Homo sapiens: one gene and its partners. The protein of the gene in region 1 purifies or fractionates together with the protein of each later gene. This does not show direct contact. Each region holds a gene or a part of one and is shown on either strand. Other genes may lie near its edges. The genes, in order: GLI4, PTCD1 and YJU2B.

What was found.
Region 2: the proteins of GLI4 (region 1) and PTCD1 purify together in Homo sapiens (affinity purification with mass spectrometry; one large-scale study listed by BioGRID and IntAct). This does not show direct contact.
Region 3: the proteins of GLI4 (region 1) and YJU2B purify together in Homo sapiens (co-immunoprecipitation; one large-scale study listed by IntAct). This does not show direct contact.

Annotation. Positions count from the first base shown.
Region 1 is NC_000008.11:143,273,855-143,277,496, forward strand, and holds the end of GLI4 (zinc finger protein GLI4), read left to right. Parts: intron 1-849; coding exon 850-948; intron 949-2,042; coding exon 2,043-2,950; 3' UTR 2,951-3,077; downstream 3,078-3,642.
Region 2 is NC_000007.14:99,428,655-99,432,302, reverse strand, and holds part of PTCD1 (pentatricopeptide repeat-containing protein 1, mitochondrial), read left to right. Parts: intron 1-2,496; coding exon 2,497-2,715; intron 2,716-3,098; coding exon 3,099-3,200; intron 3,201-3,648. Other genes in the region: ATP5MF-PTCD1 (ATP5J2-PTCD1 fusion protein), read left to right, coding at 2,497-2,715, 3,099-3,200. UniProt on the Homo sapiens protein: Mitochondrial protein implicated in negative regulation of leucine tRNA levels, as well as negative regulation of mitochondria-encoded proteins and COX activity. Also affects the 3'-processing of mitochondrial tRNAs.
Region 3 is NC_000019.10:13,757,876-13,760,970, forward strand, and holds part of YJU2B (probable splicing factor YJU2B), read left to right. Parts: intron 1-992; coding exon 993-1,135; exon of another isoform or gene 1,136-1,224; coding exon 1,225-1,397; intron 1,398-3,095. UniProt on the Homo sapiens protein: May be involved in mRNA splicing.

The DNA of each region.
Region 1 (3,642 bases):
GGCACAGCACTGAGGGGGCAGGTGAGGCACCAAGGTGGCACAGCACTGAGGAGACAGGTGAGACCCCCAAAGGGGCCTGGTGCCCCTGCTGGCGTGAGGAGAGCTGACCACTGGCCTCGGGCAGTGGAGCCCACGCCCCTCCCTTTTCAGTCTGTGCTCCTTGAGCATTAAGGCCATCCCCCCACCCTGCCCCCACCAAGTCTTGGGTGGGAGGGGGGTCTTGGTCCTGGGTGCCCAAGCCTGGTGTGCCCAGGGGTGAGGGGCTCATAGATGGGCCCAGCCCATTCCTCAGGCTCTGCCTGAGGAAGCCAGGGGCCAGTGCGCTGGGCCTGCTGGAAGCAGCTGCCTCTGCTGTTTCTGGGCGCTCGTCAAGGACAGCAGAGAGCCCCGGAGGGACAGAAAGGTCTGGGGCCAAGGCAGGAAGGCTTTGTGAGGTACGGGTGTGGGAGCCTGCAGGGCCAGCACTTTGAGAGGCCGGTCCAGAGCAGCACTGCAGGATGCTGGGGCATGGAGGAGGGTGGGCCACAGCCCACCAAGGTGACAAAGCCGCCTTCAACGGCAGGAGGGCCGCTTCAAAGCTCCCCCAGGTTTTGGCTCTGCTTACTGGGCTGAAGGGGAATGAGCTCCCAATGCTGGCCCCTGGAGGAGGAGGCTCTTGAACCGAGCTGGGAAGGAAGGTAAAGGGCATTCGTGGCTAGAGAAGCCCAAGCAGCGGGCCTGCTGTTGGGATTGGGAGGGCCAGGAGGTGTCCTGTGTCAGGGCCACAGCCCGGGAGCACGTGGCGGTCAGAGAGGAGCGGAGGCAGTGGTCCAGAGGGTGGAGGTGAGCCCCAGCCTCCCTGACCCCCAGGCTCCCCTGGCTCCAGCCCTAAGGTGCTCTCCCAGCCGTCCGACCTGGATCTCCAAGACGTAGAGGAAGTGGAGATCGGCAGAGACACCTTCTGGCCCGGTGAGTGAGCAGAATCGGGTTACTGGGGGACCAGAGCTCTGCGCGTGCCAGGCTCCTCACAATGCCCACCTCTGTGGCACCCCCAATGCTGGCACCACCCCCTTCCTGGGGCCCCTTTTCTTCCCTGGCATCAGCTCACCTCTGCCCCGTGGCCCCTCCCCCACTCTAATGCCAGTCCAGTTACTGATGCTTCCCGAGGCGGTGACTGCAGCCCACAGCCACCTGCGCCAGTGGCCCCACGTGGACTCCTGCCGGCCCCAGCTGGACACAGTGAATCAGGAACTCCTCCCTCCCCTCCACCTGCCTTGGGCTGGGGCTTCTGGCTCAGGGCACCACTGTCCCCCCAGATCCACGAGTTATCCTGTGTCCCCTCCTCCTCCTGCATCCCCTAGATGGCCTCCCCTCAGCCTGGTTGGAGCTGTGTCCAGGTCCCCTGCACCTCCCCCTTGAGAAGCTCCCAGGGTTCCCTCTGGGCGATGTTAGTGATATGGCTGGATTTAACAGTGCTGAGCCCTCGCCCACATCTGGGCGGCCCTGGGGTGGGGAGCAGGTGTCTGAGGTCAGGTCCCTGGAAAGAGACCCTGGGCCAGAGATTTGCGTGGGAAGCTCCTGGGGTGGGCATGGGAGCTGGGCGGCAGCACACTTGCCACCGAGGCCTGGGGCAGCCCCATGAGGAGCTGTGCCCATATGGACCACATCCTCGGCAAGGGCTTTGAGGCGCCCTCTGGAGCTCTGGCGTCCCCCAGGCTCCGGGTCCTCACCAACACTTAGTGCTTCCTCCTGGCTAAGGGTGACCCCATGGTCTGTCTTGCCACTGTGGCTCCGTGCACCGGCACGGCCGCCGTGGTGACTGTGGATGGTCCCAGCAGCTCTGGGTCACCCTGCAACGCCCCCCACCCCTGTGTCTATGTCAGCTCTCCTGGGCACGGCACTCCGAGCCCCTGTCCGCTTGTCTCCCATCCACTGGGTGCCTGGCCCCTCCTTGTCCCCTCTAAGCCCCCCCGTCCAGCTCTGCTCTCACTCCCCGTCCCCGTCCCTCCGTGCCACGGTGGGGGCATGCGGGTACTATCCGCCTCTGCCGTTTCTCATTTCAGACTCCGAGCCCAAGCCGGAGCAGGCTCCACGCTCTCCTGGCTCTCAGGCCCCTGACGAGGGGGCGGGCGGGGCGCTGCGCAGCCTCCTGAGGAGCCTTCCCCGCAGGGCCCGGTGCAGCGCCGGCTTCGGGCCTGAATCCAGCGCGGAGCGGCCGGCGGGCCAGCCGCCTGGGGCCGTCCCTTGCGCCCAGCCGCGGGGCGCCTGGCGCGTGACGCTCGTGCAGCAAGCAGCGGCCGGGCCCGAGGGTGCGCCCGAGCGGGCTGCCGAGCTGGGAGTCAACTTCGGTCGGAGCCGGCAGGGCAGCGCGCGGGGGGCCAAGCCGCACAGGTGCGAGGCCTGCGGCAAGAGTTTCAAGTATAACTCGCTGCTCCTGAAGCACCAGCGCATCCACACGGGCGAGAAGCCCTACGCCTGCCACGAGTGCGGCAAGCGCTTCCGCGGCTGGTCGGGCTTCATCCAGCACCACCGCATCCACACGGGCGAGAAGCCCTACGAGTGCGGCCAGTGCGGCCGCGCCTTCAGCCACAGCTCGCACTTCACGCAGCACCTGCGCATCCACAACGGCGAGAAGCCCTACAAGTGCGGCGAGTGCGGCCAGGCCTTCAGCCAGAGCTCCAACCTGGTGCGCCACCAGCGGCTGCACACGGGTGAGAAGCCCTACGCCTGCAGCCAGTGCGGCAAGGCCTTCATCTGGAGCTCCGTGCTCATCGAGCACCAGCGCATCCACACTGGCGAGAAGCCCTACGAGTGCTCCGACTGCGGCAAAGCCTTCCGCGGCCGCTCGCACTTCTTCCGGCACCTGCGGACCCACACGGGCGAGAAGCCCTTCGCGTGTGGCGCCTGCGGCAAGGCCTTCGGCCAGAGCTCCCAGCTCATCCAGCACCAGCGGGTGCACTACCGCGAGTAGCCGGGCGGGGGCTCGGGGCTCGGCCTCCTACCTGCCCCCAACCCACCCTCCACCCCGTCCCCCACGGTGGGCACTGCCCAGCACCGCATGCCACGTGTCCGGAATAAATTCTTTTTGATTGTTGGAAGTGGGAGCCGGCACCTGCCTGGGTGAGACCTTGGGGCAGCTTCCTGTCCCCGAGGACCCGCTGCGGGATGGGGGTGATGGGGCTGCTCCACCAAGACCTGCCATACAGGGCCACGGGGTCCCTGGGGTCTGGCGGGCGGCCCGAGTGTCGTAGGGGAGGATCTGAGGCCTGGAGGTGTCCTGACTTGCCCAAAGCTGATACCCCACCATCAACACGGGAGGCGGGGGGGGCGCGCCCAGAGCAGGGGTCGAGGACGGGGCCAGTCTAGAAGTGCTCACAGGCCTGGCCAGGCTGCCTGTCTGCCACCTGGGTGAGGGGTCTCTGGCAACTCGGTTCCCTTATGTATTTGGGAGGCCTCTGCTTCTGTAAATGCAGCAGGCTTCCCCACGTGCCCTGTCAGCTCTGCTGCCTCCATTCAGTGGGGGGCCTGCTGGGCAGCAGTGGCCCGGGCTTCCTCTGCACCAGCCCCTTGCCCTGGGGTGTGGGGGCCCAGGGTGTTCAGGTCTTGACAGGTGTGGGCTGGTACGGCTGGGCCTGCCGGGCCCTCTTCAGAGCTGCCGGAACA
Region 2 (3,648 bases), on another chromosome or scaffold:
GTTTTACACCCAAGACATTCCATTCCCAGGGACGAGCAGGAGACAGATGCCTTCCTCTTATCTCAACTGCAAAGAGGCCTTCCTCTTTCACTAACCCTCCTCAGCACAGACCCTTTATGGGCGTCGGGCTGGGGGACAGGCTGGGAGACAGTCAGGTCTTTCCCTTCCCACGAGGCCATATCTCAGGCTATCACATGGGGAGAAACCTTGGACAATACCTGGCTTTCCTGGGCAGAGGTCCCTGCGGCCTTCCGCAGTGTATTGTGTCCCTGGGTACTCGAGATTGGAGAATGGCGATGACTTTTATCAAGCCTACTGCCTTCAAGCACTTTTTTAACAAAGCACACCCTGCACAGCCCTAAATCCATTAAACCTTGAGTCAACACAGCTCATGTCTCTGCAAGCACAGGGTTGGGGCTAGGGTTACAGTTTAACAGCATCTCAAGGCAGAAGAATTTCTCTTAGTACAGAACAAAATGGAGTTTCTTGTGTCTACTTCTTTCTACATAGACACAGTAACAGTCTGATCTCTCTTTCTTTTTCCTACAGTCCTTTTTTTTTGGAGACAGAGTCTCGCTCTGTCGCCCAGGCTGGAGTGCAGTGGTGCGACCTCGGCTCACTGGAACCTCCGCCTCCTGGGCTCGAGCAGTTCTCATACCTCAGCCTCCCGAGTAGCTGGGACTACAGGCGCACATGCCACCATGCCTGGCTCATTTTGTTTGTATTTTTAGTAGAGACAGCATTTCACCATGTTGGCCAGGCTGGTCTCTTGACCTCAAGTGGTCCACCCGCCTTGGCCTCCCAAAGTGCTAGAATTACAGGCGTGAGCCACCGCACCCAGCCCATTACATCTATTTTAAAAAACTATTATTTTTGGCCAGGTGCGGTGGCTCACACCTGTAATCCCACCATTTTGGGAGCCCAAAGTGGGCGGATCACGAGGTCAAGAGATTGAGACCATCCTGGCCAACATGGTGAAACCCTGTCTCTACTAAAAATACAAAATTTAGCTGGGCGTGGTGGCACGTACCTGTAGTCCCAGCTACTCAGGAGGCTGAGGCAAGGGAATCACTTGAACCCAGGAAGTGGAGGGAGGTCGTAGTGAGCCGAGATCACGCCACTGCACTCTAGCCTGGCGACAGAGTAAGACTCCATCTCAAAAAAAAAGAAAAAAAACTAATATTTTTATTGTTTTTATTTATTTTATTTTATTTATTTATTTTTTTGAGACGGGAGTTTTGGCTCTGTCACCCTGGCTGGAGTGCAGTGGTGCGACCTCGGCTCAATGCAACCTCCACCTCCCAGGTTCAAGCAATTCTCCTGCCTCAGCCTCCCGAGTAGCTGGGATTAAAGGCGCCCACCACCATGCCTGGCTAATTTTTTTGTGTTTTTTGTAGAAGACGGGGTTTCGCCATGTTGGCCAGGCTGGTCTCGAACTCCTGACCTCAGGTGATCTGCCCACCTCAGCCTTCCAAAGTGCTGGGATTATAGGCGTGAGCCACGGCACCCAGCCTTGTTACTGTTTTTGGTGACTCACCTGCAGTGTGTCTCCCTTCTTGAGTGTAAGCTCAGTAAGGATAGGCTGTGCCCGCTCTGCTAACCCCAGGGCTGCTGCTGGGCAGGTAGTGAGTTGTCAGTGCACCTCTGTGGAGTGCAGCAATACACGCAGAGCTTACATCATCCTCAAAGTAGGGACTGCCCTCTTTGCTTTTCAGATAAGGAAACTGAGGCACAGAGAGATGAAGGGACATGTCCAAGGCCACCCCACTTGAATGCACCGGGGCTGGGATTTGAGCCCCAGATGGCCTGACTCTAGCAGGGTTCTTTCTGCCGCTGAGCTGCCTATCGCCTGCCTTTGTCCAGATGGCCCTTCTCTGGCCAATAGCGAGTGCTAGGCTTCACCACGGATTGTCAACCCTGAGCACATGCCTTAGTCCCCTGGAGGCTCAGTAAGCTGAGTGTCACTCAGCTCCGGGGCTTGTGACTTACCAGATCAGGTGGCCCTGAGAATGTGCATTGTGCCACTGGTTCGGGGCCACCCCTAGAGCACTGCAGTGCATCCTCCCACTTGCCACAGGCATGCCTGGTTTCAAGGTGATGGTGTCATCCCCATTTTCGCGAGGAAGTGCTAACTTGCCCGGGAGCCCTCAGGTAGTAAGCACTACAGGCCCTTTCCCCTTGACGGGGTGGCCTGAAGGTGGGGACATCAGGAAGACCTTGCTGCCAGGACCCCAGGCCTGGAGTGGGCTGACAAGTGCCCAGGGCAGGGTAGCTCCTGTTTGGTACATCTGGGTGTGTGGGCTCAGTTTTCAGAGTCCCTTCAATGTGTCTGAGTTTGGAGAGCTGGGCTCTGATGTGTCCATGGCTCTGCCTTAGAGCCTGGCCTGGTGGATGCAGTGACGGGGTCCTCTCCAGCCTCAGCCTCCTCTGGGGCAGCTGCTCACCTGTGCGTCCAGCTGATCCCGGGCCACCACTGAGCTTCTTCCATCTCCACAGATGAAAAAGCGGGACCTGGAGCCCTCGGACGCCACCTACACGGCCCTGTTCAACGTCTGTGCCGAGTCCCCCTGGAAGGACTCAGCTCTACAGAGCGCCCTGAAGCTCCGGCAGCAGCTGCAGGCCAAAAACTTCGAGCTCAACTTGAAAACATACCACGCGCTGCTGAAGATGGCTGCCAAGTGCGCAGACCTTAGGATGTGCCTCGATGTGTTCAAGGTGGGGCTTCCCCTGCCGTCCTGCTCCCCTTCATGGGGCTGGTCCCACGTGTCAGGGGCAGGGCTGTGGTGTCTGTCTCTCCTCATGTAGGAAGGCTTAGGGAGGATGAGACAGCCGGTATTGGGCCCTGGGGTTCACAGATGGATCTGATGAGACCTTACTGGAGATTGTGTATGCCACCGTGTGCTGTGTCCTGCTTTGTGCACTCGAGGGAAGGCTTCCTAGAGACAGGGTCTTGCTATGTTGCCCAGGCTGGTCACAAAACTCCTGGCCTCAAGTGATCATCCTGCCTTGGCCTCCCAATGTGCCAGGATTACAGACATGAGCTACCATGCCCAGCCTGCTGCAGGTTCTCAGTGGGACGTCTTTGTTCCCTCCCCCAGGAAATCATCCACAAAGGGCACGTGGTCACAGAGGAGACCTTCAGTTTCCTGCTCATGGGCTGCATCCAAGACAAGAAGACAGGCTTCCGGTACGCCCTCCAGGTATGTCCCTCCCACCCCACCTTCCTGCCCTGCTTCCCCGGTGCCAGAGGTGCAAAATGGTGATCCTGTGAGCACCCACGATGGCCCTGTGCTGAGTATTTTTATATCTGTGCTCTTTTCTGAAAACCCAGCAGCCACTGTAGCCTCCATTCTACAGATGGCAGGGAGAGGAGGCCCTTGGAGATGGAATGAGGGTGGCCCCCGCCCCTCCCACCCTGCTTTGCAGTCGGCTTAGCCCCTCTAAACTCACCTTCCTTGAAAGCCTGCCACACACTCACCTGGGGACTTGTTCAACCCTCCCACACCCCCATTAGCACTTCTGCAGGTGCAACCCAGGAGTCATTCATTCATTCATTCATTCATTTATTTTGAGATGGAGTCTCACTCTTGCCCAGGCTGGAGTGAGCGATCTTGGCTCACTGCAACCTCCGCCTCCCAGGTTCACGCG
Region 3 (3,095 bases), on another chromosome or scaffold:
CAGGTGGGGTGGCCACAGGGCGAGGGGGCTACAAAGAGCCTGAGTTGCGGGGGGAACCCATTCCCTGCAGGACTCCTGGAAATCGCCCTGGTTGGTGAATCAGGGCACACCCCACCCCCGCAACCCTCCATGGCTCCCACCTTCCTCAGTAAAAGCCCAAGTCCTCCCCCTGGCTCACAAGGCACCACACACTCTGCCTGTCCTTTCTTCACCCTAACCTCCTCCTGCTGTCCCCCTCCCTGGCCTCCTCGTTGTCCCTCACACACCCCAGGGACACACCCACCTCTGTGCTTCCACCTGGAATGCTCTTCCCCAGGTAGCTCCAAGGCTCCTCCCTCACCCGGGGTTTCTGCTCAAACAGCACCCCTCAGAGACACCTTTTCTAAAGTGAGACTTGACACTGGTTGCTTGTGCCCTTGCTATCAAGGTGGGCCCTGCTGGGACGTCAGCCTTTCCATGAGCAAGTTGGCTTTTCCACTACTCAGCAATTTCCCCAGCAGCTGGCACTGAGCCTGCCACAGAGCAGCCTGTCTTGGGCGGGTTTGTTGAATAAATGAACTAGTGGACAAATGAATGAACAAATGAATGAACAGAATGAACAAATGATAAGTGAATTAACAAATGGATGGATGAGCAAATGAATGTATGAATTACTTTAACAAATGAATCAGTGAACCAACAAACAAATGCACTAATGAATGAACAAATGAATTAACGAATAAATGAACCAAAAAAATGGATGAGGGAATGAATGAATGAACAAACAGCTGAATGAACAAATGAATAAGCCAACTGCAGCCCCACTGACAGAAGGTCCGTTCTGGGTGCCCGGATGTGCCCCTTTTTGCCCGTGGCTCTACACGGCACACAGTGGGTGCTCAGTGAATTTTTGTCAAATGACACCATTGGGTGGAAGGAAGCAGGCAGAGGCGACAGGGCTGTCCTGGTGCACAGCCACAGCCTCCTGACTCCTGCCCACCGCTCCCTCCCAGGTTCCGGATGAAATGCCACCTCTGTGTCAACTACATCGAGATGCAGACGGACCCCGCCAACTGCGACTACGTGATCGTGAGTGGCGCCCAGCGCAAGGAGGAGCGCTGGGACATGGCGGACAATGAGCAGGTGCTGACCACAGGTGAGCGCCACCCACTTACCTGCCTGGGGGCCCTGGCCCTGAGTCTGCGCTGGGGCCCCCAAAGCCCAGCCGAGCTCTGATCGTTGCAGAGCATGAGAAGAAGCAGAAGCTGGAGACGGACGCCATGTTCCGGCTGGAGCATGGCGAGGCCGACCGCAGCACACTCAAGAAGGCGCTGCCCACACTGAGCCACATCCAGGAGGCCCAGAGCGCCTGGAAGGACGACTTCGCCCTCAACAGCATGCTGCGGAGAAGGTTCCGGGTGAGGGGGGCTCCAGCCCGGGGTCAGAGAGGATGCATGGTGGACCAAGGCCCGGGTCCAGCCCTCCCCCCACCACATCCTAGCTTTGAGCAGGCCACTGTACCCTCTGAGCCTCAGTTTCCCCATCTGCTACATGGTGACCATGCCCTGTCTTAATCCATTCTGGCTACTATAATAAAAAATACCATAGACAGAAACAGTAGAAATTTGGCTGGGCACAGTGACTCACGCCTGTAATCCAGCACATTGGGAGGATCGCTTGAGGCCAGGAGTTCAAGATCAGCCTGGGCAACATAGTGAGACACCACCCCCCCCCTCCCCCAGCATCTCTAAATAAATAAATAATAGAAATTAATTTTTTTTTTGTTTTGAGACAGTAGTCATCTCGCTCTGTCATCCAGGCTAGAGTGCAGTGGCGCAATCTTGGCTCACTGCACCTCTGCCTCCTGGGTTCAAGCAATCCTCCTGCCTCAGCCTCCAGAGTAGCAGGAATTATAGGTACCCACCACCACCACGCCTGGCTAATTTTTTTTTTTTTTTTTGAGACTGAGTTTCACTCTTATTGCCCAGGCTGGAGTGCAATGGCATGATCTTGGGTCACCGCAACTTCTGCCTCCCGGGTTCAAGTGATTCTCCTGCCTCAGCCTCCTGAGTAGCTGGGATTATAGGCATGCACCATCACGCACAGCTAGTATTCTTAGTAGAGACGGGGTTTCTCCATGTTGGTCAGGCAGGTCTCAAACTCCCATCCTCAGGTTATCTGCCTGCCTCGGCCTCCTAAAGTGCTGGGATCACAGGCGTGAGCCACCGCACCTGGCCAATTTGTGTATTTTTAGTAGAGGCGGGGTTTCACCATGTTGGCCAGGCTGGTCTCGAACTCCCAACCTCAAGTGATCCACCGTGGCCTACCCAAAGTGCTGGGATTACAGGCGTGAGCCACCGAGACCAGCCAAAATAAACAATAGAATTTTATTTCTCATGGTTCTGGAGTCTGCGAAGTCCAGGATCAAGGCGCTGGCAGATCCAGTGTCTGGTGAGGGCCCATTTCTCATAGGCGGTGGCTTCTAGCTGTGTCCTCATGTGGCAGAAGGGACAAACAAGTTCCCTTGAGCCTCCTTTTATAAGTCCAATAATCTCATTGGTGAGGACGTAGCCCTTCTGACTTAATTACTTCCCCAAATGCCTCACATCTTTTAACACTGTCAACGTTGAGGATTAAGCTTCAACATATCAATTTGGGGGACACAGACATTGAGACCATAGCTCACCCCTACCTCACCATGCCATGGGAGATACCTACCTGGTTGCCTCCTTTTATTTATTTATTTTTTTTCTTTTTGTGACTGGGTCTCACTCTGTTGCCCAGGCTGGAGTACAGCGGCAAATCATGTCTCACTGCAGCCTCGATGTCCCAGGTTCAAGCAATCCTCCCCACTAAGCCTCCCAAGTAGCTGGGACCCACAGGCATGAGCCATCACACCTGGCTAATGTTGGGTTTTTTGTGTTTTGTTTTTGCTTAGACTGAGTCTCGCTCGTCGCCCATGCTGCAGTGCAGTGGCATGATCCCGGCTCACTGAAGCCTCCACCCCAGGTTCAAGCAATTCTCCTGCCTCAGCCTCCCAAGTAGCTGGGATTCCAGGTTCCCACCACTGTGCATGGCTAATTTTTGTATTTTTAGTAGAGACTGGGTATCACCAT